7 linked regions of the Homo sapiens genome follow. The protein of the gene in region 2 interacts with the protein of the main gene of each other region in a pairwise test. Each region holds a gene or a part of one and is shown on either strand. Other genes may lie near its edges.

Evidence for each region.
Region 1: the proteins of EFS (region 2) and NUP155 interact in binary tests that used the Homo sapiens proteins (3 or more experiments, as listed by UniProt).
Region 3: the proteins of EFS (region 2) and LHX8 interact in binary tests that used the Homo sapiens proteins (3 or more experiments, as listed by UniProt).
Region 4: the proteins of EFS (region 2) and SH2D3C interact in a two-hybrid assay, tested with the Homo sapiens proteins (2 studies listed by BioGRID and IntAct).
Region 5: the proteins of EFS (region 2) and GLMN interact in binary tests that used the Homo sapiens proteins (3 or more experiments, as listed by UniProt).
Region 6: the proteins of EFS (region 2) and SORBS2 interact in binary tests that used the Homo sapiens proteins (3 or more experiments, as listed by UniProt).
Region 7: the proteins of EFS (region 2) and SH3RF2 interact in binary tests that used the Homo sapiens proteins (3 or more experiments, as listed by UniProt).

Annotation. Positions count from the first base shown.
Region 1 is NC_000005.10:37,308,607-37,312,106, forward strand, and holds part of NUP155 (nuclear pore complex protein Nup155), read right to left. Parts: intron 2,138-3,500; coding exon 1,946-2,137; intron 967-1,945; coding exon of another isoform or gene 916-966; exon of another isoform or gene 817-915; intron 662-816; coding exon 523-661; intron 1-522.
Region 2 is NC_000014.9:23,359,040-23,362,172, forward strand, and holds part of EFS (embryonal Fyn-associated substrate), read right to left. Parts: intron 1,795-3,133; coding exon 1,516-1,794; intron 1,243-1,515; coding exon 1,102-1,242; intron 1,001-1,101; coding exon 278-1,000; intron 1-277. UniProt on the Homo sapiens protein: Docking protein which plays a central coordinating role for tyrosine-kinase-based signaling related to cell adhesion. May serve as an activator of SRC and a downstream effector. Interacts with the SH3 domain of FYN and with CRK, SRC, and YES.
Region 3 is NC_000001.11:75,158,388-75,162,033, reverse strand, and holds the end of LHX8 (LIM/homeobox protein Lhx8), read right to left. Parts: intron 1,216-3,646; coding exon 1,139-1,215; 3' UTR 501-1,138; downstream 1-500. UniProt on the Homo sapiens protein: Transcription factor involved in differentiation of certain neurons and mesenchymal cells.
Region 4 is NC_000009.12:127,744,167-127,747,666, forward strand, and holds part of SH2D3C (SH2 domain-containing protein 3C), read right to left. Parts: intron 3,106-3,500; coding exon 2,981-3,105; intron 934-2,980; coding exon 398-933; intron 1-397. UniProt on the Homo sapiens protein: Acts as an adapter protein that mediates cell signaling pathways involved in cellular functions such as cell adhesion and migration, tissue organization, and the regulation of the immune response.
Region 5 is NC_000001.11:92,271,488-92,274,987, forward strand, and holds part of GLMN (glomulin), read right to left. Parts: intron 166-3,500; coding exon 1-165.
Region 6 is NC_000004.12:185,805,695-185,809,194, forward strand, and holds part of SORBS2 (sorbin and SH3 domain-containing protein 2), read right to left. Parts: intron 1-3,500. UniProt on the Homo sapiens protein: Adapter protein that plays a role in the assembling of signaling complexes, being a link between ABL kinases and actin cytoskeleton. Can form complex with ABL1 and CBL, thus promoting ubiquitination and degradation of ABL1.
Region 7 is NC_000005.10:145,999,078-146,002,577, reverse strand, and holds part of SH3RF2 (E3 ubiquitin-protein ligase SH3RF2), read right to left. Parts: intron 2,521-3,500; coding exon 2,251-2,520; intron 1-2,250. UniProt on the Homo sapiens protein: Has E3 ubiquitin-protein ligase activity. Acts as an anti-apoptotic regulator of the JNK pathway by ubiquitinating and promoting the degradation of SH3RF1, a scaffold protein that is required for pro-apoptotic JNK activation.

The sequences.
Region 1 (3,500 bases), on a different chromosome or scaffold from region 2:
ATGGCGTGAACCTGGGAGGCAGAGCTTGCAGTGAGCTGAGATCGCACCACTGCACTTCAGCCTGGGTGACAGAGCAAGACTCTGTCTCAAAATAAAAAAAATAAAAAAATAAAAAAATAAAAAATTAGCTGGGCGTGGTGGCGTGCGCCTGTAATACCAGCTACCCGGGAGGCTGAGGCAGGAGAATTGCTGGAACCTGGGAGGCAGAGGATGCAGTGAGCTGAGATCGTGCCACTGCACTCCAGCCTGGCTGACAGAGCGAGACTCTCAAAAAAAAAAAAAAAAAAAAAAAAAAGTACATTTCAAAAAATAGAAAGAACATTACAGCTTCTGCAGGTCAGTGTAGTCATCAAATATTGCAACACAATGATACCACATTCCTACGTCCTTTCACTCGGCCTCTGATGCTGAAAGAAGATTTGCATCTGGAAAGTGGCTTTTCATCATTAGCTTGCTTCATTCATACACTATTGTTTGTCTTTTGAGTTGAGTAAAAGATACAAGAAACATTTTATTTCTCACCTTGTCTATACTGAGCACAAACATTGGAAAGGTCCACTTGATTGCTAATTTTTTGATATTCCTTTAATGATTCCCTTAACATTCTTTCTTTTTCAGTCTTATTTTGAACTTGTCGGGAACGCTGGAGAAGCTCATTTGCCTAGAAGAGGAGATAACAAGAACTTAAAAATATATAAAATCAAGCAGACAGATGATGCTGTCAACTAAGTTTTAGTCTATGTCTAAATTTATATATGGTTATTACCATTAAAATGAAAACAACTCTACAAACTTACTTCTTAATTTTAGGCAGAAAAGTTTTTGACCAAAGATTCCTAGCTATTCTTAATTCCTCTCCCAAATATGTTAAGCAAGAGAACTTTTGTCTGGTAATTCTCTTGCCTAGTCAATACATTATTGGGCAGCAGGCAGTCCATGTGACACTGATTTATTTATTTTTTCCACCTGTAGGAAAGGATCAATAAAAATGCCCCCATTAACTCTAATTCACTAAAAGATTTACTTGAAGTTTTAGTACTTTTCCTTAAGCTAAGGAGATAAATTATCCCCTAAATTTCCTTAATTTCTAAATTTAGTGATTTTTCTTAATTTCTCACCTTTGGTTTTTTAATATGGCCTAGAAACACTATCAAAGATTCTTTATGGGCCAGGCGCAGAGGCTCATGTCTATAATCCCAACACTTTGCAAGGCTGAGGCAGGCGGAGGTCAGGAGTTCAAAACCAGCCTAGACAACATGGTGAAATCCTGTCTCTACCAAAAATATAAAAAATTAGCCAGGTGTGATGGTGCACACCTGTAATCCCAGCTATTTGGGAGGCCGAGGCAGGAGAATCACTTGAACCTGGGAGGTGGAGGTTGCAGTGAGCTGAGATCGTACTCAGTCTTAAAAAAAAAGAGAGAATATTCTTTATGAAAAACTTAAAGGAGGGCTGGGCATGGTGGCTCACACTTATAATCCCAGCACTATGGGAGGCTGAGGCAGGAGGATCACTTGAAGCCAAGAGTTCAAGACCAGCCTGTGCAACAAATCAGAACTTGTCTCTATAAAAAACAAAAAAATTGGCTGGGTGTAGTGGTGCACACCCGTAGCCCCTAGCTACATGAGAGGCCTGCTTGAGTCTAGGACTTAGAAGCTGCTGTGAGCTATGATCACAGCACTGCACTACAGCCTAAGCAACAGAGTGAAACCCTGTGTCAAATAAATAAATAAAAATATTTTTAAAAAGAAAAGCTAAGCTTAAAAGAGTATACACTGGTTTTAAGAAGCCACATATTCCAACCCCTTTCTTAGATGAGGATTCTGAGGCTAGGAGAGGTTAAGAGATCTAACTGACTGAGGTCCTATATTAAGTGAAACAAGATGGTTCATCATACATGATACCTCTTATAACAAACAATGAAATAGGTAATAAAGTATCATACCTTAGAACAAATTGCATCATCAGTGCTATATAGAAGTGGGCAGATATCCTGTAAATGTAAACTAATGCCATCAACAGCGGCATTATCTCTGATGTAGCAGTTGATAAGAGAAGCAATTAATGCCCCTGTGAGTTCTTTGTCCCTGATTACAAGATCTTTAAAGGTGGTGATCTTCAGCTGCTCTTGAAGTTCCTAGGAGCATAAAACTTTTCTATCACAATTATAGAAATACCATATTTCTAAACATAATGAAATTATTTTAATAAATTAAAATAACCTAAATATTAATAGACTCTATAATTGAAAAGCGAAAATATACTAATTAGTAGAAACAAATTTTTGCGAACTTACATAAAATCATAGAGAGTTGGAAAAGAACCTACAGTAGATCTAGTCCAAAACTCTCACTTTCCAAATGAGAAAAGTAAAGCTTAAGTAGAGCCAAAACTAGAGTCAGATCTCCTGGCTTTGGTTATAAAATGGAAAAAACAATCACTTGGCTATATTTGAAAATCTTGGGCTTACATATTACTCCTTCCTAAACACTGTTAGAATTCCATTATTCTAGGCCTTATAATAATATTGGAGTTTAATCTGTATTGTGAACAAATCTGCTTGTCCAAATGAAGCTCTAAAGTATTGATTTATACTATAGTAAAAGATTCTGTTAGTGATGTGACTGCTATCTCTTTTTTCTAAATTCAAGGAAATACCCAAACTGTGTTAAAATTCTTGAACAAATCTTTAATTTGCATTCATTGAGCATGCCATTGGTGATGTAAGGAAGAGAGCTTTGAAGATGGATCACAAAAACATACCCAGGATAAAAACCTACCTACAATATATTTATCACTCTATAAAACTCAAAATTATTATTCTACTTGGTATGAAAAAGATAAGTTTCATAATTAAATATATTAGCTTGAATTTTTAAAAATAAAAAACAGTATGTATTTAAAAGAAACAAAACCACCAACAAAAGCCACACTATTCATTGGACACTAGTGGAAAGAATGAGGAGACTGCCTTCCAACGTTGAAAAATGGTATACGAGAGTCAAAAAGTAAGTGTTTCAGAGTAATGAAATATCCATACAGGACAAGGAAAAAGAATTTTTTTTTTTTTTTTTACAGAATTGCAGCTAGTAACTGGGGAAGGAATCACAGATTTAAAATATTATCCTTTTGGCCGGGCATGGTGGCTCATGCCTGTAATCCCAGCACTTTGGGAGGCCAAGGCAGGTAGATCACCTGACGTCAGGAGTTCAACACCAGCCTGGCCAACATGGCGAAACCCGGTCTCTTACTAAAACTACAAAAATCAGCCAGGCGTTGTGGCACATGCCTGTAGTCCCAGCTACTCGGGAAGCTGAGGCAGGAGAACTGCTTGTACCCGGGAGGTGGAGGTTACAGTGATCTCAGATTGCTCCACAGCACTCCAGCCTGGGTGACAGAATGAGACACTGTCTCAAAAAAAATAAAAAACAAACAAACAAATAAATAAATATTACCCTTTTGTAATCCTAAATGAAATAATAAATTCCAGCAATGATTAT
Region 2 (3,133 bases):
TTCCCCGGACCCCCTTCCTTCCGAAGGACACTCCTGTTATCAGAGGTTGTAGTCCCTTGACTCCAGAGAGCTCTGGTGGCCCCAGGCTGGGTCTAGGAGGAACAGTGTGGCACTGGTACAAGTGTTGTGGCCAAGTACTGGGGTCCCAGGCTGCAGGGTAGAGGGAAGGGGGACAGAAGGGAGGCAGGGAGGCTCTGCCTCTGTGCCCTAGGTCTCCACACCCCTCCCCTTGGTCCCTCTGGGGTCCCTCCTGGTGGGGCTGCCAAGGGGCGCTCACCTTCAGGTGGACATAGTCATACTCCTCGGCCATCGGAATGCCCTCGTACTCATTGTGGTGTCCTGCTGGGTCATCCTCCATCTCCCTGCCCTCTGGATCCCCCTCGACCTTGGGGCCTCCATAACCAGGCAGGCGGGGTGGGGGTGGGGGCAGAGGCCGGTCCTGGATGCTGCCCTTCCGGCCTGGGGCAGGAGAGGGCACTGGGGAGGGGCTGGGGGCCTCAGGGACAGGCAGGGCAGGCAGAGGGCGGCGGGACAGGCTCTCAGCTGAGGGGAGCCGGGGCCTGTGTGGGGGTGGGGGGCTTCTGGCCAGAAGCTGGGCCAGGGTGTCCTGGTCATGGGAGGCCAAGGCTCCAGGGGGCTCTGGAGAAGGGGGAGCCTCTGGCCCCAGCAGAGGCACATCGTAGATCCCCTCATCAGTGCCCCCGCCCTCCCCGTCTGCCAGCAGTTCCTCGGGTGCTTCATACAAATTGAGTAAGGCTGACGCTCGTTTCAGGTTGGAGGGGGCAGCATAGATGGGGGGCCCCGGCTCCCGGCCTCCTTCCCACTCCAGATCTGGTTCCAGCTCTGCAGGTGGCTTTGGGGTCAGAGGCACATCATAGGGAGCATCATCCTCTCCAGGGGGCTGCGGGGCAACCCGGGTCAGAGGGTGGGAAAAGGAGGCAGGGCAGTCATAGGGGCCACTGGAGGGCACCCGGAGGGCGGTGGGGGGCACATCGTAGACCTGCGGAAAGGAGTGGTCAGTCATCTGTCAGCTCAGCGATGAACCCTCCCTTGGGGCCATTTGTCTCCCACCCAACATACACAGGGACCTCTAGCCCTCACCTCCAAGGCATCTCTGGGAGCAGCCAGCTGGGTCCCACTAGCTCTGGGGATTTTGTAGATGAGGTCAGGAGAGGGTGGGCAAGGTCCAGCTGGAGGTCCTGAGGTTGGACAGGGCCGAGCTGGGGGCGGCACCACATACACCTGAGGGATCAAATAGATGGGGGGTCAGGAGGAACGGAGGGGCCGGTGATCAGATAATGTCTGAGTGCGAGGAGCTTAGAGACCTTCTAACTCTCCCTGTATCGAGAGGGCCACAGCTCAGAAAGGTTGGTAGACAGGTTTCGTCCAGCGCAGAGCAGTGAAGAGCTGTGGCCTCAGGGCTCTTCCTGCCCACCTGCTGCAGGCCCTGGGTGGGGCTAGTTGGGGAGGAATGGGGCTCTTCTGGCTTGGGGTTGGGGAGGCTCCCACTCTCACCTCCTGGTCCTCATTGCTGTGATCTGGGGCTGGATATGGTGAGCCAGGCTGGGCTGGGGACGCAGGAGAGAGGCTGGGCTTGGGTGCTGGGCCAGCAGGCAAGAGCTTCACCCTGTTGGCGGGCACAATGCCCTGCTGGCCGTGTAGGGAGCAGAGGCACCAGCCGTCCAGTCCACCAGCGCCCTCTCTCTGCAGGACCCGTAGGACATCCCCTCGGCGGAAGGACAGCTCCTGGGGGGACTCAGCGGTGTTGTCATACAGTGCCCGGGCCAGCTGGGTCTGGTTGGGGAGGTGGGAGTGGGGAGAAGGGTCTTCAGACCCCTTTCAGGTCACGTCACCCCTGCTTAGAACCCTTCGGAGCTCCGCATTTCCCTCAAGCTAAAAAACCTGAACTCTGGATGCAGCTTTCTGCCTGGGCCCTAGCTTCTCTCCAGCTTCACCGCTTGCATTCTCCCTCTTCCTTTCAGTTCCTTCAACTAGACCAGCTCTCCTCAGAGAGGCCGATTCTTTACTCTTCTCCCCGCCCCATTCTCTGTTTGTCTCCACCTATTGTTTCCATCCTCGTACTTTATACTATTTGTCTATTTGCTTCTTTTGTATCGATTTCTTCCCTTATACTGTAAACCCTATGAACATAGGAACGGCTATATTTCTAGTCCTTGCAATAAGGCCTGACCTGGAATTGGTCATTACACATGTTGAATGAATGTCTTCCAAAACATGTGAAGCCCTGCTACAGTCTCTCATAGACCTTCTCTCTGTTCCCAAGTCATTATCCCTCACTAGCAAAAGGTTAGATTAAGCAGCCACAGAGACCTCTCATTCTGAGAGACTGGGAGAGGCCTAGTCCAGACAGTGTGCCTAGGCATAATAAGAAAGAAAACAGAAACAAAGCAATTGTTTTGCTCTCAGTCTGAGCAAATAAGTTTCTACCAGAAGAGGCTGAGGTTACCATGGAGAAAAGTGTGTATTCTTGTGTGTGTGTCACCACTGCCTGGGATCCTTCCAGCAGGCATCATCATTTAGCAATGGGCCCTTCCATTGCAGGACAGAGTGTGTCTTTGTGTGTGTGTGTGAAGGGGGTTGGCAGGCCAACCAAAAGGAAACATGTATCATTCTGTTTCCAGTCCTGTCTGGTGGGGGCTTATAAGCTTTTTCCATCAAGGGCCACAGGCTCAGGTAATAACTCACAGGTACCAAGTGCAAACAACGTTTCCAGACACTGTGCAAATCTTTGCATTAATCAACTCATCTCATTTAATTCTCACAACAACCTTACGAGGGAGGGACTGTCATTACCCCATTTTGGAAAGAAAACTGGAAGAGGGAGGTTAGTACTTTGTCTGATGCCATATCGCTGGCACAGCTTGTGGAGCATAATCTGAACCCTAAGCTGCTTGATCCCAGAGCCTGCGCTCTCAATCACTTGTGCTACTGCTTCTCCACAATTACAAATGTAGGAATCTACTTAAAAGAAAGAGTAGTAACAGTGGCTGAGAGGGTCCCTAACTCAAAAGCAAGTCAAGCGCATAGGAAAGCCTTCTTATACCCTATTTCCCTTTGCTATAACCCTTCGCAGTGCTCTTGCTCCATGATGTCATTTGGTAGAATCAAGCTA
Region 3 (3,646 bases), on a different chromosome or scaffold from region 2:
TTCTTCCCCAACTGGCATATAAAAAGACAAAAAGTGAGTACTAAATTCTTTAAATTCAAAAATTTGTAAGTCCACTGCCACATAAGATAAAGTCCTGAGGTTTAAGATTTCAGCTCTCAGAATCACCATCCCTAAAGGGTATTCACCAAGAAGAAAATGCAAAGAGTTCTTGCTCTAGAAACTTTTAGTTCTCTTTTTTCACTCCTGAAGAAATATATTATGGCCCATATTTCATTTCTGGCTTGTAATACCCTCCGAAGTCCATTCTGAAAAGTGTTCTGCCTTCTCTTTCACATTGATTTTATTAGCTGGCCTAAAAGACAATTTTTGCCAAATTAAATGTTTTACTGTGTTTTTTTTTTTTGAATAATATGTTTCCTACTCAAATGTGTTCATACAATGCAGCTCAAAACACAATACTTTTTAAACTTATTAGTTGTTAGATTTTAAAGAGACTAAAGTCAACTTACTGCTGAAAACACACAAAAAGGACAAACTGGTTGAAATTTTCACAAGAATGGAAAATGTTTAATAAACTCAGAATGGTGGGCTTATTAAACTATAGTGTTATTTACAGCCATAATTCATCAACCACAAACACAATAATGTGTTTGCATGGCATGCTACAACAGAAGCTTTATTCAGTTCATTCAGAAAACATTGGCAAAATAAATTTCAGTTGCAAATTCACAGATACAAGCTTCAAAGTATAAAGTTGTATATAACAAAAAATACAGGTAATATTTATTACAATAACTTACAGATACAAACTAATGATAAACTACAATTTCACAAAAGATTGTAAACATTTTGCACACTTGTCAGTCCTTTCTTTTAGGCAAAGTGCTCTTTTGATGACAAATAAATTAACAGATACACACTAGAGTGAACTATTTCCAGACAATACAAAAAATGTTTTGATTTGTTTTCTTCTTGTAAACATAAGTTTTACAAAAAATGAAGAATTAATAAAAGTGTCTTGCAGGCCAACTATAGATACATACCTGGGCAGCAAAGTGATGTTGGAAATGCTTTAGGTGTTAAATAAAAAATTAACAGTAATATCTTTTCAATGGTATTTTATACATAATAAATGACAAATTTATATCCTTAATCAAGTCTATCCCTGAAAAAAGAATTAGGTATGACTTATTGGCAGTTGTGTCATTGAATGGGGTAACAAGGGCTGGAGTCCAAGAGTTGTTGGTGAATGAGCTACAAAATAGAAAGAAATTTGTGGATCAGTTTTGTAGGGTGCATAAAACTGATTTATAAACAAACAAAAACAATCCAAGGCATTGTTTTCATCACTCATTATAGCTGAGGGCACCAAGCTACACTCATTCCACTGACCTCAGCAGAAGCATTAACCTATTCAGCATAGTGAGAGTCCAGGAACAGTTTTACCCCCAAATCTTTATTTGGGGCCACAAGATTTTGCCATTTTAATGTCCTCCATCCATACCCCATTCACTGCACTTCACCCTGAAGCTAGAAAGACATGGGTTCCTCTTCAGAGATGCTGCTGCTAGCTTTCTCATGAAGGTGTTTGTATAGGATGATCTTCCCCAAGTTTCTTTCATTAATGTTTAATTACCTCCTCCCTAAGCATACATCAAAACACACTGGACTCAGGCAACACTACTGTGTTTCATGTGAACACACACAATTTTAATGCTAGTATAAGTAAATGGCAACAACAGTACAGGCTCTGATTTTTTATCTAACCAAAACTTAAAATGAAGTTTCTGCTTTCAGCAAGGGCTATGTTGCTTCAAACCAAACCTTTCTCTGAGACCAACTAGGAAATCTGGACAAAATTTTTAAAATCTGTTTGAAGGCATCTGAAAGACACTTAAGTAGTGAGGACTTACAAAGTCCCAGAGTGGAGGGAAAGAAAATGAGGATGCTTTTCCTCCCGCAAGGATAGTGACAATTTAAAACAAAACAAATGTCTGATAGGCCAAGAAGTTTAGCAGAGCATTCAGAAGTTAGACTTTGGCAGAGTGGTGAGAAACAAAAATTAAAGAGCAGGGCCCGCTGAAGAGGAGAAGCCCTAGTTAAAAACAACAACAGAAAACAAAACAAAACAGGGATTCATTTGTGATTCCAAAGGGCTAACTCCAAGGAGTAGTAAAACAAAAATATACCAGCCCTCTTAAGGATTTGTGCCTGATTGGATTAAGTTGATTTCACCCTATTCTGACTACCTGGGGGGTAAAACTAATCTTCTCTAGTGAAAGATATCATCCACAGCCTCAAATTATTTTTAGTTACTCATACCCAACATCTGAAATGCAATAGCAAATAAGAAGACAAATAACAAGACATGACTTGAAAGAAAATAAAGAGGAAAATTAAGAAAACAGAATAGACCCACCAAAGATCCAGATATTGGAGTTATCACACCTGAACTTTAGTATAACAATTTAAATAAGGATAAAGTGACAAAATGGATGATTTCAGCATATAAATGGAAATCTTAAAACTGAAAAACATAATAAATTAAGAAGTCGGTGGATGATTTTTTTACAGGATATTAGATATAGAGAGCATTAGTGAACTAGAAAAATAGTTCAGAAGAAAACAAGAAAATTTTTTCATAGGAGCAAAAACAATATTTGAGGAGGCAAAAGCTGAGAATTTTCCATAATGAAAGACATCAAACTACATATTCAAGAAGCACACCCAGGCACAGTATGGTAAAACTTTTTCAAGACAAACACAAAGAAAAAAGTTGAGGAAAAAAGACGTTTATTTTCGAAGGAGCAAGAAGGTCAATAGCTGACTTTACCAATAAATGGGGCCAGGTTAATTAGCTATCCATATGCAAAACAAACAATGAAAATCAGAAGACAAGGTAATCATATCTTCAAAGTGCTGAAAGAAAATAACTACCAATCCAGATTTCTACTTATAGAGAAAATACCACTTACAACTGAATCAAAAGAAATACTTAGAGATAAACTTAACAGAAGATGTGCAAGATTACTAAACAGAAAAGTCTAAATCATGAGATGATTTAAAGATGATCTAAACAAATGGAAAGACATGCTAAAGTTCATGGTATGGAAGAAAATACTGTTAAGATGGCAATTTCCTAAAACTGATCAATATATTTGCTGTAATAGATTGTATCAAAATCTTAATTGTTTTCCCTTTTGGGGTAGAAATAGACAAGTAGGTAAATTTTATGAAAACATAAAGGGCCAAGAATGGGCAATACAAACTTGAATAACAACAAAATAGAAACACATTATCATATATTAAAAATTATAGACCTACCATGATTAGAATGATTAAGTAGCAACACAAAAATAAATAGACCAATAAAATAGAACAGAAGGTACAGAAATTGACACAACATACGGACATTTGATTTATGGCAAATATGTCTCTACAGAGAAGCTGGACATTTTCTATTTTCATCAACATAACAAAAAAGCTTCACTTTCTACCTCACACCACACACAAAATTCAGTTCCAAATGAATTGTAAATCTACACAGCAAAGGTAAAACAAAGTTTCTAGATGATATCATAGAAGATATATCTTCATTATCTTTGAGTATAAACAATTTCTTGCACATGTCACCAAAAAAAGCATGGCTCATGAAGGAAAAATGATGAAATAAACTACATTAAAA
Region 4 (3,500 bases), on a different chromosome or scaffold from region 2:
TTCAAGTGATTCTCCTGCCTCAGCCTTCCAAGTAGCTGGGATTACAGGCGCCCACCACGACGCCTAGCTAATTTTTGTATTTTTAGTAGAGACGGGGTTTCGCCATGTTGCCCAGGCTGGTCTTGAACTCCTGACCTCAGGTGATCCGCCCGCCTCGGCCTCCCAAAGTGCTGGGATTCAGGTGTGAGCTACCACCCCCGGCCTTTTTAAAAGGAGAAACTGGAGGCCCAGTGAGGCTAAATGACCAGCCCAGAGTCACAGAGCAGGCAAAGGACAGCCATGGAGCTAGAATCCAGGCCCACCTGCTGTACTTGGGGAATCTGGGAGCCAGCTTCTCACTGCCCTGCCCCACAGAACAGAGATGCTCCCTCCACCCCAGTGCACAGCCAGCACCTACCAGGCAGTCCACCTTGGTGACATGCCGGGCCAGCGTCCGGGCATCCACTTCTGCCAGCAGCTCCTTGACCTTGCGCAGAAGGCCCACCTCCAGTGGCCGGTTATCCCTGGGGATCAGTAGTGACTGGAAGGTGGCCGGGTTGAAGGAAGAAGTGACTTCCACGATGGGGACTGTGAAGGTCTTGCCCCAGTCCCCTTCAGGGGCCCCATTTTCTGACAGTTCCTTTAGCCTCTCCCCATAGCTCCTGGCCTGCTGGCTGGAGGTCTCAGTCGCTGCCCACTCTCGGCTGCCACGCACGGGAGGCTGGAGCTGGCAGTAGTGGCCAGAGTCCGGGTCACTGTAGCTGCTGAGTGATGGTGACGGGGAGGCCTTGCCAAGGGTGTGGGAGGGGCTGGTGTGGGGGCCCTTGTCTGACTCCCCATGGGTCTTTGGGGCACTTCCGGGACACAGCTGGGGCTCACTGGAACGGCGGGCGACAGGGGAGGCAGGCAATGCTGTGGCAGAAGGGGCTGCAGGGGCGGCATGGACACGGGTTACTGCAGAAAGGTAGAGAGAGAGGCCCCGTTATAGCAGCTCCCCACCAAAGTGAGATTCCCGCACCCCTTCCCAAAGAACAGGCTCCCTCACTCCTTGTAGGGAGTACAGAGGTGATGTCCCCACCTCCCTGCATCACCAGAGACCAGGGCCGATTGACTCTGGCAAGCTGACCAGCCCAGGTGATGCTCTGAAATCACCAGGACCCAGGAGTTTGCATGGCCCCACCCTGAGGCTGCTGCAGCCTTGGGGACCCACTGCTTGGAGGAGCTTCAGTGATCCGGGGAAGCTGAGTACCTGCTGGAGTTTCTTGTGCCACATGTGATTGTTTCTCGACGAATTAGCAATAATGATTTCCTTTTTTTTTTTTTTTTTTTTTTTTTTGAGTCACTGTCTCGCTCTGTGGCCCAGGCTGGAGTGCAGTGGTGCCATCTAGGCTCACTGCAACCTCCACCTCCTGGGTTCAAGCAATTCTTCAATTCTTGAGCCTCAGCCTCCCGAGTAGCTGGGATTACAGTCATGTGCCACAACGCCTGGCTAACTTTTTTTTGAGTCAGAGTCTCGCTCTGTTGCCTAGGCTGGAGTGCAATGGCATGATCTCAGCTCACTGCAACCCCCGCCTCCCAGGTTCAAGCAATTCTTGTGCCTCAGCCTCCTGAGTAGCTGGGATTACAGATGTGCCCCACCATGCCCGGCCTGAATTAGCAATAATGATTTGTTGCTAAACCTTGTGTGCTAGGAGCTGGCAACATGCTGGAGACATAATGACAGTAAAACCATCATCAAACCTCAAAGGCGATATTTACTAAGCTCTTAGTGCCTGCAAGACCCTTCTTTGTACCTCAGTCTATTTAATCCTTTCAATGTCCTATGAAGTAAGTACTTTTATAATCCTCATTCTACAGATGAGAAAAGTGAAGCTCAGAGAGGTGCACTAACCTGCCCAAGGTCACCCAGCCAGCAAGTGGTACAGCTGAGATTTAAGTCTTGACATCTGGGCTGCTTTACTATACCAGATTGCTTAGAAACTGTCCAATAAGTCATTCTGGCAAGGAATTTTAGGTTTTATACTCAGGGTATTGCTTTGAAATCAAGTTTGTAGTTATGACAAAGTTGGTGGCTCTGTGTTTAGGGAAGGATTTGTGACAACCGATACAGACAGCAACACTTCAATGGAATGCCACCCTAGGCGAAAGTTCCTCCTGAGTCAGCCCCCTCTCGTGACACTTGGCCTGCCACGTGGACAATACGGCCTGTTGAAAACATTCTTTTTATTTTTTTTCCAGAAATGATCTATTGGAATGTTTCTAACAGAGAAACTTTCTTCGTATTTATAAGAAAGCACAGTGTTCCGTACTTTCCACTTAATTTTGCTGCAAACCTAAAACTGCTCTAAAAAATAAAGTCTATTAAGAAAAATAGAGGCCAGGTGCAGTGGCTCATGCCTGTAATCCCAGCACTTTGGGAGGCTGAGGCGGGTGGATCACCTGAGGTCAGGAGTTCGAGACCACCCTGGCCAACATGGTGAAACCCCATCTCTACTAAAAATACAAAAATTAGCTAGGCATGGTGGCACACGCCTGTAATCCCAGCACTGTGGGAGGCCAAGGCAGGTGGATCACCTGAGGTCAGGAGTTCGAGACCACTCTGGCCAACATGACGAAACACCGTCTCTACTAAAAATACAAAAATTAGCCAGGCGTGGTGGCAGGGGTCTGTAATCCCAGCTACTTGGGAGGCTGAAGCAAGAGAATCGCTTGAACCCAGGAGGCGGAGGTTGCAGTGAGCCAAGATCCCACCACTGCACTCCAGCCCACAAGAGCAAAACTGTCACAAAAACAAATAAATAGTTGCTAAATAAACAAACCATGGATACATCTTATATGTTGATATCAACAGTTCTGTTAGCAGGATTCCAGTGTCAGTTCTTTCTCTTGGTAAAGGTCGCGCCTCATAAAAGAGGCGGAAACACACATAACCACACATAGGTGACAGAAGTCTTCAACAACAGATTCCCTCCACCTGCTCCACCCCCTCTGCTGGCCATACCAGTGCTGTAGGCAGGGGAGCTAGGGCTCTCGGAGATGGGCGACATGGGTGAGTGCAGGTCTGGGATCTGGTCCATGCTGAGGGCACAGCTGCGGATGGAGTCCCGAGGGCGGGGCAGCGACGTACTGTGGAGCAGACACCATCATGGGCAGGGAGCCCGGAGGTCAGGGGCCTCAGCCTGCCTCTGGGACCCCCCACCTCTGCACCTTGAACTTCAGAGGCAGAGAAGGCTTGGAGATTATCAAATCCAACCTCCCGACTGACAGGTACCAAAAAAACTGAAGCCCAGATGAGGGAGGGGGCACAGCGAGTCAGGAGCAGAGCTAGGAACCCTGGTGGCTAGAACGCCTGGTTTCTTTTTTTCTTTTTTTGTCTTTTTTCTTTTCTTTTTTGTTTTTTTTTTCGGAGATGGAGTCTCACTCTGTCGCCCAGACTGCAGTGCAGTGGCGTGATTTCAGCTCACTGCAACTGCTGAACCTGCCTCCCGAGTTCAAGACATTCTCCTGCTTCAGCCTCCGAG
Region 5 (3,500 bases), on a different chromosome or scaffold from region 2:
AATATGGATGCCCTGTACAAATACTAGATATGCCAGAGAAGCCATTGAGTCTGCTAACTGTTTATTTTCTTCTTCTTCAAATTCAAGGTAATTCCAAGTTCTCTTTTTCCTTCCATGATTAAAAATCATTTTGGGGAAAGGGTGTCCAATTGCTGATAAAAAACCCTATGAAATGGATAAAAAAGGAAACCATAGCACACAGACTCTAAAATGCCCCCCACCCCGTGTATTCAAACTCCACATTCTCACCAAGGGGAGGTGTAATCACTCCCTTTGAGCGTGAGTGGGACCTATGAGACTTGCTTTCAACCAACAGAATGCGCCAAGATGTCACTCCCATGATTAGATTATATGACAAAAGTGAAGGGGTTTTTGCAGATGTAATTAAGGTCCCAAATCAGTAGATTTTGAGTTGGGTGGCCCTAACTTAATCAGGTATATTTTTAAAGGGGGTCCAGGCCTTCCCTGAGAGTCAGAAACTTTGCTCTCTGACTCTCTCCCTTGCTGGCTTTAAAGAACTAAGCTGCCATGTTATGAGAAGGCTCATGGACAGAACTACATGGCAAGGGACCAACTACAGGCAGCTCCTAGAAGCTAAATGTGGTCCCTGGCTGACAGCCAGCAAGAAAATGGGGACCTCAGTCCTACAGCTTAGAGGAAATGAATTCTGCCAGCGGAGGAAACCTGAAAGTGGATCTTTCCCCAGTTAAGCTTCTGATAAGACTACAGACCCAGTCAACAACTGGCCTGTAGCCCAATGAGACCCTGAGCAGAGGACCCAATTAAGCTGTGGCTGGACTCCTGATCCATAGAAACTGTGAGATAACAAAGGTATGCTGTTTTAAACTGCTAAGTTTGCAGGAATTTGTTATACAGCAATGAAAAACTAATACAGAAGCCAACAGCAAAATCGTATTTTACATAGCATTTTATACATCAGAAGTATTCTAAATTAATTCAGAATCATAGTTTAAAAAGTTTAAAATGATGAATTTTATGTATATTTCACCACAATTTTTTTTAAAAAAGTGCTTCAGGGATATTTGAGAGCAATCTGAAACGTGAGACATACAAATATATGAAGCAAGGGTAAAGCAACTAAGATGAAGAATACTCTAGGAACAATGCTCCACTAACATTGTGCCTGTAGAGAGTGGGATGCAGGAACGCTGGGCAGGGCAGCTGGGCCTGAGGAAACACTGTTGATCTCTCAGTCATCAGGGTTCTCATGTGAGACGAGAAAGAGAAGCATCCTTGCATGAGTGGGTAGGACCACAGGGCTAAATAAAGCTTTCCGCTCAGGAAACAAGATCACTCCTATGCCTCTTATACTGGTACTAATTCTAGCGTACCAGAAAGCACCTACCTTCAGAATCCACTGACATTGATTTTGAGTTTTGGCTCTACCATTTACTACTTGTGTGACACTGGATGAGCCATAAAATGACATAATACCTATGTCAAATATTTATCGAGCAGCTCCACAAAAAAAGCGTAAGAAAGTTAAAGTCACAACAAACTACAAGAGTTAAAAGGGAATGAATGACAAAAACAGCTAAAGCAGAATGAATAACTTCCACACAAGTCACTCTTTTATTCAATAAACACTTAAGTGCAAGGTGCTGGGCCTGACTTTGTGGGGAATTATAAAGCCAAGTATAAGTCTTTTCCAGCCTTCAGGGACTTAAAATCTGCTGATCCCAGATGGTTCCATTAGTCATTTCAGAATACAAAAAGGAACCATGGAAAATCATCCTCAGTCACAAGAGACTGCTATTCAGCGACCAGATGCTAAATATATACTGCTGCAGTGATTTTCAAAGCCATGCATTCTGGTTATAGCTACAAGACAAAAAGTTTATTGCACTCTGATTCCAAATGTCCTTAATCATGAAGCTCCATTTCTTTATTCAGCCAATGCTACATGTGTTTTTTCCAGAGTAAGGTAGCCCTGTTTTTTTTTTTTTTTTTTTTGGCGACAAGGTCTCACTCTGTCACTCAGGCTGGAGTGTAGTGGCATGATCATGGCTTACTGCAGCCTTGACTTCCCCAGGCTCAAGCAATCCACCCTCCTCAGTCTCCTGAGTAGCTAGGACTACTGGTACATGCCACCATGCCCGCTATTTTTTTTTTATTTTTTTTATTTTTTATAGAGATGGGGTTTCGCCATGCAGCCCAGGCTGGTCTTGAACTCCTGGGCTTAAGTGATCTGCCCACCTTGGCCTCCCAAAGGCCTGGGCCTACAAGCGGGAGCTACCGTGCCCAGCCTAAGATACCCTTTTTAAAACATTATTATATGCAACTAGATTCTACAGTGCTGCTCTGGATATCTGAGATCCAATCTGTTCCCAAATCTGGGCCTTCACTATCTATCCACACACCATCCAGCAGTCTTGCTCAGATCCAGGCTGTACCTGGCACCATACAATTTCTCAATATTCATGGCAGCTTTTGTCCTTTCAGAAATGTTCCTGTACTACAGCCTTTGGGACATTCTAGTAGTTCTGTACCAAAATAACTTGTACCAAAGTGAGGATGGCTGAGGCCTGTGAATCCCAACCACACCACACTTACCAGTACTTCTCCAGCACAGAACAGAAGACATCTCCTCATTTCATCTCCAAGCTGGTCTCACCTCTACTTCTAGACTGCTACGTGCATCCTTACTGCTGGCTCTTTCTACTTGCAATGTTCCTTCTACTGAGATTTTAGAACCACTCACCTACATCCTCAGTCTCTTCATAGGATGCTTGTTCTGCCTCACTGCTTTAACTAAACCTGTCTGATTTCTGGTGGGAGATGCTCATTCTCACACCTTTTATACCACAGGGCCTGGAATGCAGCTGTTGGGTAGAGGAGTACAGGTAGGGGCTTAGCACAGTATTGTAGTATTGGCTTTTTCTGTACTTTTCAACAAAAGCACATTTTCCTTTGATGCAGATAACATACTGTCCTTTTCTCTGTCATATGCTGACTTCCTGGTAATTTCCTGACATTCACTGAAGACTCTGGCACCTTCTCATAATCTTTTTCTCTACCCAATTCCTGCTATGATCCTGGGAAAATTCAATGTTCATGGAGATAACCCCTATAACAGGCTAGTCTCATGGTCCTTTATTATTATTAATTTATTTTTCAATCAAGCAACAAGTCATTGCATCCACTCTCATGGTTCTCAATTTCTAAATTCTAGTGACTTTTAGTTCTAATCCATTTCAGTACCTAATCCCATGCTGGATCTCTGAACATCTGGAACTATTCTGTATTTGATACTTTAAACTCCAATATCCCATTTTCTGACCAAAATCTGTCATCCTGTCTCTCCTAGCAATCTGCTTTTCTACTTCTGACTTCTCCAGTCCTGTGATTCCTACATTTTGACCTACCTAGGCATTCCCTCCTAACCCCCCTTCTTTCCCTATCCAACCTGAATCATGGATTATTGACCAGCTGAACTATCTGCACCCTGTATTTCCTTCAGCAGTATCTACCCAGTAAAA
Region 6 (3,500 bases), on a different chromosome or scaffold from region 2:
CTTAACTACTAGTAATACTATGCTATAAAAATTTTGAAACCTAGATTTTGAGATATTGAGCAAACTAAAATATGTAGTATTTACTATAGTGCAAGAATACGTCTGACGGGTTAAATGCACGCGTTTTGGAAAGTGCTCAAACCCTTCACCAGATGACACAGTTATAGCACAACAACAGCTGAGGTTATTGTTATCTAATCTCCTTTCCCTCGTTAACTTTAGCACAGAGAACTGAAATAATTGGGTGTGAAGGCATCTTGATAATCTACCAAAAAGGCTCATTTTTAAGCAGCCAAGCGTTGCTCTCTTAAACTTTTGTTGTTTAGTAGCATAAAGTGTAGGCAACCTGTATGAAGTATAAATATCTGGTATTAAAAAGACCCAGTGAGGCAGAAGTCGCTGACTCCTCTCAATAGGTGGAAGAGGATTCTCCATGCAGCCGAAGGCTTAATGAAGCACATTTCCACCAGCCAGGCTGCTGCCTCTGTGGTGTTACCTCTTCAGAGGACTCAGTGCCTCTGAGAAGCTGGCTGTCCTCAGCGAGAAGTAAGTACAGGGACTTCTGTTTAGAGGAGACTAGAATGAATATTTATACTAATAAATTTTCTCCAACATAGCCAAAATCTCATTTGAATATGTTTTTCTTTCTGTGCATTTAAAACACTTGCCATTCTTCATGGCATCCCATGCTTGTACTCTTAGAGGATCTTCACGAGTGGCACAGCTCTTGGCTAGAATCCTATTTTTTTTTTTTTTTTTTTTTTTTTTTTTTTTTTTTTTTGAGACGGAGTCTCGCTCTGTCGCCCAGGCTGGAGTGCAGTGGCGGGATCTCGGCTCACTGCAAGCTCCTCCTCCCGGGTTCACGCCATTCTCCTGCCTCAGCCTCCCGAGTAGCTGGGACTACAGGCGCCCGCCACTACGCCCGGCTAATTTTTTGTATTTTTTAGTAGAGACGGGGTTTCACCGTTTTAGCCGGGATGGTCTCGATCTCCTGACCTCGTGATCCGCCCGCCTCGGCCTCCCAAAGTGCTGGGATTACAGGCGTGAGCCACCGCGCCCGGCCTAGAATCCTGTTTTTGCTATAGTTTGTTGGACTCCTTGCGGCTAATCCTTGCAGCTATATTAGTCTCTGAGGGATGCTGAATTGAATAGAACATCAGAAGATTTGGAGCCTGACGGGTTTATGTTGCCCCTGTCCTCAAATTCAACTATTCCAGAAAAAATGTACTAGGACAAGGAACCTGAAAAGAAGAACTATTTCTAACAATGGATTGGATGAACTCTCCCATTCAAAGCAGAGGATATAATTCATTATAAGACTTGTAATTTACTTTAACCACTGGGAAAACATCTCAGAGGGAAGAGAGAAAAACTGAATTTCTGATTAAATTTAAAAAATCAAAAATTTAATAAGTAGGCAACCGTATAAATGAACAGAAAAAAACAAAATATCACCGAAACTTTCAGATAATGTTCTTTGTTAAAAATAAGTTTCCCTAAATTATAATATGAATATATAAAGAGAAATTAGAAAATATAATGAGAACATTACCAGGCCTTTTTGTTTTCTTTCTTTTTTATTGTGTTTTTGTTTTTTTGAGGTGGGAAAATCTTTGAAAGTAAGACCCTTGATTGGATTCAGGAAAGTGAAAGCTTTCTGAATTTTTGCTCAAATAATGCTTCTCTAAGGTACAGAATTTAATGCTGAATTTATGTCTACCTCACCTGTATAGGGAAGAGGAAACCACTGCTTTTTTGGCCAAAATTCCTACTTGGTAAACTAGTATATTTCCGTTTTGAAGACCAAGGTGCAGTGAAGTGTGGTGGAGTTCCATATGGATCTGTTATGCTGCAAACACCAAAGTAAAAACCCGTCTTTGCTGGTTCCCCGTCATTTATTCAGCAAATATCATCTTAATTGAACTTAAGCTGAAACGTGAGTTCTTATTTGCCAATACTCAGAACTCAACAGTTGCAGAAGTGTTTCCTTTTAACTGCATGTCCATGTCTTGAGTTTTTCAGAAATAATACAGAAAAACATATTTTGAAAACATATTTATCTGTATTTTTCCACGTGACAGTGGCAGTTTAGGATTTAACAGGCATATCCATAATTAAATTGTTAGTTTGAGGAACTTCCAGAAAATTATCTAATGCAATCATATATCACAAGTCTTCTTTATAAAATACAAGTGCAACTCATTTCATTATGCTATCCATGTAGTTAGACATAACTGAGACCTTTAAAAATATTATAAATGACTTAAAATAGAAAATGTTAGAAACAGTACAGGCATATTACAAAATCATGGTTTCTGAAATCTAATTACTATATGCAATTTAAAATAATTAAACATGATTAGTCTTTAAGATGAATAGAACCAATTCCAACTTTAGCTATTATTTAATTATAGCATGCTGTACATTAAAATCAGCTGGAAGATAGCCAAAATAAGCTTTAAAGGACAGCATGATAATTAAGAATTGCTATTTATCTTACTTTTATTAGAAAACTCAATGCTGGAATGAATGCAATAATGTCAAGAAATATGAATTTAAATAATTTCCTAAATATTTTACTTTCTAATCCCAAATATCAGGATATTTTAAACTTCCTCATCAATTCTACTTTATATACAAAAATTCATACAGTATTAATTAGAACTTTTGCTTTCAACACAGATATCTTAAAGACAAGGAATTATGTATTTATAACTTCTTAATAAAACTATGGGTACATTCTTATTTTTGATTGTGGCAGTTTTTTCATAAAAAGGCTACTGAAATCAGGCTTATTTAAAAAATACTAATAATGTTATCTAATATAGAACAGAGGGTAGGAAGTCTCTGTAAACAAACCTATATCTATATCAAGAGTGATTCTAAGAGAATATTCTCTCCCTTACCCAGGTACTCAAGTTGTAGGGTAACATAACTAGTGTAACGTAACTAGTGATTTCCAGTCACCTTTTAGGTTTACTTAGGAACATTAAAAGAAATGCTGCCATTGTAGACTTCATTTCAATTATTTAATCTCTTTCCAGTTCACGACCTTTACTTTCTTCTGGTTTCAGCAAGAAAAACAACTTCATAAGTGTCTTACATTATAATCGGCTACTAATCATCATCAACTCAACATTAGTTTTAAACAGTCTGATTCCATAACAAATTTGTAATAGGGATATTTTCTATACATTTTATAATAGCCATGGATAGAAAAATAGTATTATTTATATACTAAAACATTCAAGTTGTTTTGTTTAAAACATACATTGTAAAATTTTCCCTCGGGAAATTTGGATTTATTATAGGACAGTTGTAGCTTTTATGAAATTGGGATCCTGAAGCCATATTTTCAAATCAGAAAAATGAAAGCCTCATTGTTGTTTTTCAAATGTTTTAAGTTTCCTTGATAAAAGGCAGTATTAGGACTTCTATTTCTAGGTCAAGTCTATATTTACAGTAACTAATAGGAAAATATTGAAGTCTGAGGTTACCAG
Region 7 (3,500 bases), on a different chromosome or scaffold from region 2:
CCTGCTCTTACACATGTGCAATTATGCATTTATAGGTTATCCTTCCTTCCTTCCTTCCTTCCTTCCTTCCTTCCTTCCTTCCTTCCTTCCTTCCTTCCTTCCTTCCTTTTCTTTCTTTTTTAATTTTTAGATGGAGTCTCGCTCTGTTGCCCAGGCTGGAGTGCAATGGCGCGAACTTGGCTCACTGCAACCTCCGCCTCCTGGGTTCAAGCGATTCTCCTGCCTCAGTCTCCTGAGTAGCTGGGATTACAGGCACGCGCAACCACGCCTGACTAATTTTTGTATTTTTAGTAGAGTCGGGGTTTCGCTATGTTGGCCAGGCTGGTCTCAAACTCCTGACCTCAAGTGATCCGCCTGCCGCGGTCTCCCAAAGTGCTGGGATTGCAGGCGTGAGCCACCGTGCCAGGAGGTTATTATTTCTTTAATGTCGGTCTACCCTATCTGACTATAAACTTCATGTGTGCAGGGCCTATGTCTGTTTTGTTAATCTTTGTTTTCCCTAGCACCTAACACAGTGGCTCCCTTTTAGTAGTCAGCCAATAAGTTTATTGAATGCATGCATGCATGAATAAATACATGACGTTGAATAAATTACACAATTTACTGAGCTAGAAAGCACTAGGAAAAGAACAGCTTTGGGAAGGAAGATCTTGAGTTTAATTTGGATATGCTGAGTTTAGACCATGAGATTTCCTAGAAGTCTGTGTATTTCACAGCCTTCCAGAATGGGTCAAATCCTCTCTTTTGGTTTCTTTGTCATAATTTCCCATTTATATGTCTGTTTCTTCCACTAGATTGCCAGCTCAGTGTAGGTAAGAACAATGACTCATCACTTTATCTCCAATGGCCAGCTTGGCACATGGATGGGCTCAAGAAATGAATGAGTGTGTGAAGTAAGTGCCCCAGTTTACAAATTCCCAGAAAGGGTGAGAGAGGCAGACGATGATACTTCCTTATGTCTTCCTCCAGCTGTGTGTCTAATGCCTGGCACAAAGTAAATAATAAATATTTGTGGAATTGAACTGACTTTCCTCTAGCTGTAGTCTAGGTCTACACTTTGCTGTTTGGGCTGTAGAATGACCTTCCTTAGGAGTCTCGCTCTGAGGTTCCACGGCAATAATAAAGATCATTATCTCAAAATATGGAGGGCAGAGAGGTTGTCTAGTTTGAGAAAACCTGAAGTAAATCTCCTTTCTGGTAGTGGTGGAATAAAAACATTTTGTAAAACGAAACACCTTGCCTAAGCTATTGTAGCAGTGCCACTTTTTATACTTACATTTGATCTACTTATCACGAGTAGTCAAGAATGAAAATAACTCCAACTGTGGTTTCTATGAGAGATGTGAATGTTTATGGAATAACAAATACTGAATACAGATAGTTAAAGTAGTGTAGACTTTAGTACAACTGTCATTAATTGCAAATGGTGGGGAATCATCTAATGAAAAAGAGAGGCACAAGAAATCTTAGGGTAATTAATGTTTGAAAAATATATCTTGTAAGAGGTTATTTATGTAGAAAGGCACGATTATGTTATTGTGTGTGTCTGGAGTGTTTTGAATGAGATGTTTACAACAAGATAGAATGTAAATGAGTAGAATTAGGTAACCATAACTTGGTTGCAAGAATACCCTGCCACATACATGATAAAGAGGTAGAGGCTGTAGTTTTACATAGCATGTTATCAAATTGTTTCTAATTTTCTGTCCATGTATCGGTGCTTCCCATTACTCTGCCAGGAGAGCAGAGACTGTGACTTATTCACGTCCTATTCCCAGGGCCTTCAAGGAGTAAATGCTCAAAAGTGATAGAATGAATAAATCAAATGTGTTATTCAAGCTGTTGACAGTGATTGTATCTATATTGTGGTGTAATATTTTCCTTGTTTTGCTTATCTGTATTTTCAAATGTTTCTACAATGGTTTCAGGATAAATGAATGAATGAATGAGTGAATACTTTTGTAATTACAATAAAAAAGGCTTACAGACTTCTATCACTTATTCGTAGATTTCTCTAGAGATTTCACGTGCATGTAGTTTGAATTGTACACACATATTACATATATATGCACTACATATATACATACGTAATTTATGCACAAAATATATTTTTATGAATAAAATATTAACAATAATATAATATATTTAAAATACAATTTTTTAAAATCAGCAAATATTAAACAAGGAACTCTGTTCTGCTATGGTCTCTACGTGGTCCCAGGTGACTCTGGTGGCCACCCAGAATCCTACCTTGAGGAAGGTCAGGCAATCCTGGTTCTCACTCTTGTCCTTGCCTCGTAGGTCGAAGTTGTAGAGGGCCCTGCAGAGCGGGGGCGGCTGGGGCAGCTGCTTGATGACTTCCACGGAGCTGGCTGGGAAGTTCCCGCTGATGCCATTGATTTCCCCCTGGTACCAATTCTCATCAAGCTGTCTCCGGAGAAGGATGATATCTCCCTTATTAAACCTTAGGTCACCGGGATTCTGCCCTCTGTAGTTGCATAAGGCCTTTGCTCGAGGCACCTGCAATGGCACAGACCAATAAGATATGTACTTAGCTTAGAGTCTAGAGGAACAGAAGATACAAGCATTCCCCCTTTTATTGTACTTTGCTTTAACATGCTTTGCAAATACTGAGTTTTTTACAAATCAAAGGTTTATGGCAACCTGTGTTAAATAGGTCTATCAGCGCCATTCTTCCAACACCATGTGCTCACTTTGTGTCTCTGTGTCACATTCTGGTAACTGTTATTAACTTTAAATATTTTAAACTTTCATTATTATTATATCTGCTATGGTGATCTGTAATCAGTGATCTTTGAGGTTACTATTGTAATGTCTCGGGGGGCGCCACAAACTTTGCCCATACAAGACAGCAAACTTCGTCGATAAATGTTTGTGTTCTGACTGCTCCACAAACTGGTCATTTTCCCATCTCTCTCCCTCTCCTTGGGCCTCCCTATTCTCTGAGACACAAAAATATTAAAATGAGGCCAATTAATGACCCTACAATTGCCTACAAATTTTCAAGTGAAAGGAAGAGTTTCACATCTCTCACTTTAAATCAAAAGCTAGAAATGATTAATCTTAATGAGGAAGGCATGACTAAAGCTGAGATAGGCCAAAAGCTAGGCCTCTTGTGACAAACAGTCAAGCTGTGAATGCAAAAGAAAAGTTCATGAAGGAAATCAGAAGTGCTACTGCAGTGAATACATAAATGATAAGTAAGTGAATCAGCCTTATTGCCGATATGGAGAAAGTTTGACTGGTTTGTGTAGAAGATCAAACCAGACACAACAGACCCTCAAGCCAAAGCCTAATCAAGATCAAGATCCTAACTTTCTTTAATTCTATGAAGGCTGAGAGAGATGAGGAAGCTGCAGAAAAAAAGTTTGAAGCTGGCAGAGATAGTCTGAGGTTTAAGAAGAGAAGCTGTCTCTATAACATAAAAATGCAAGGTGAAGCAACAAGCCATCAATATTGAGGCAAGACCCACCACCAGC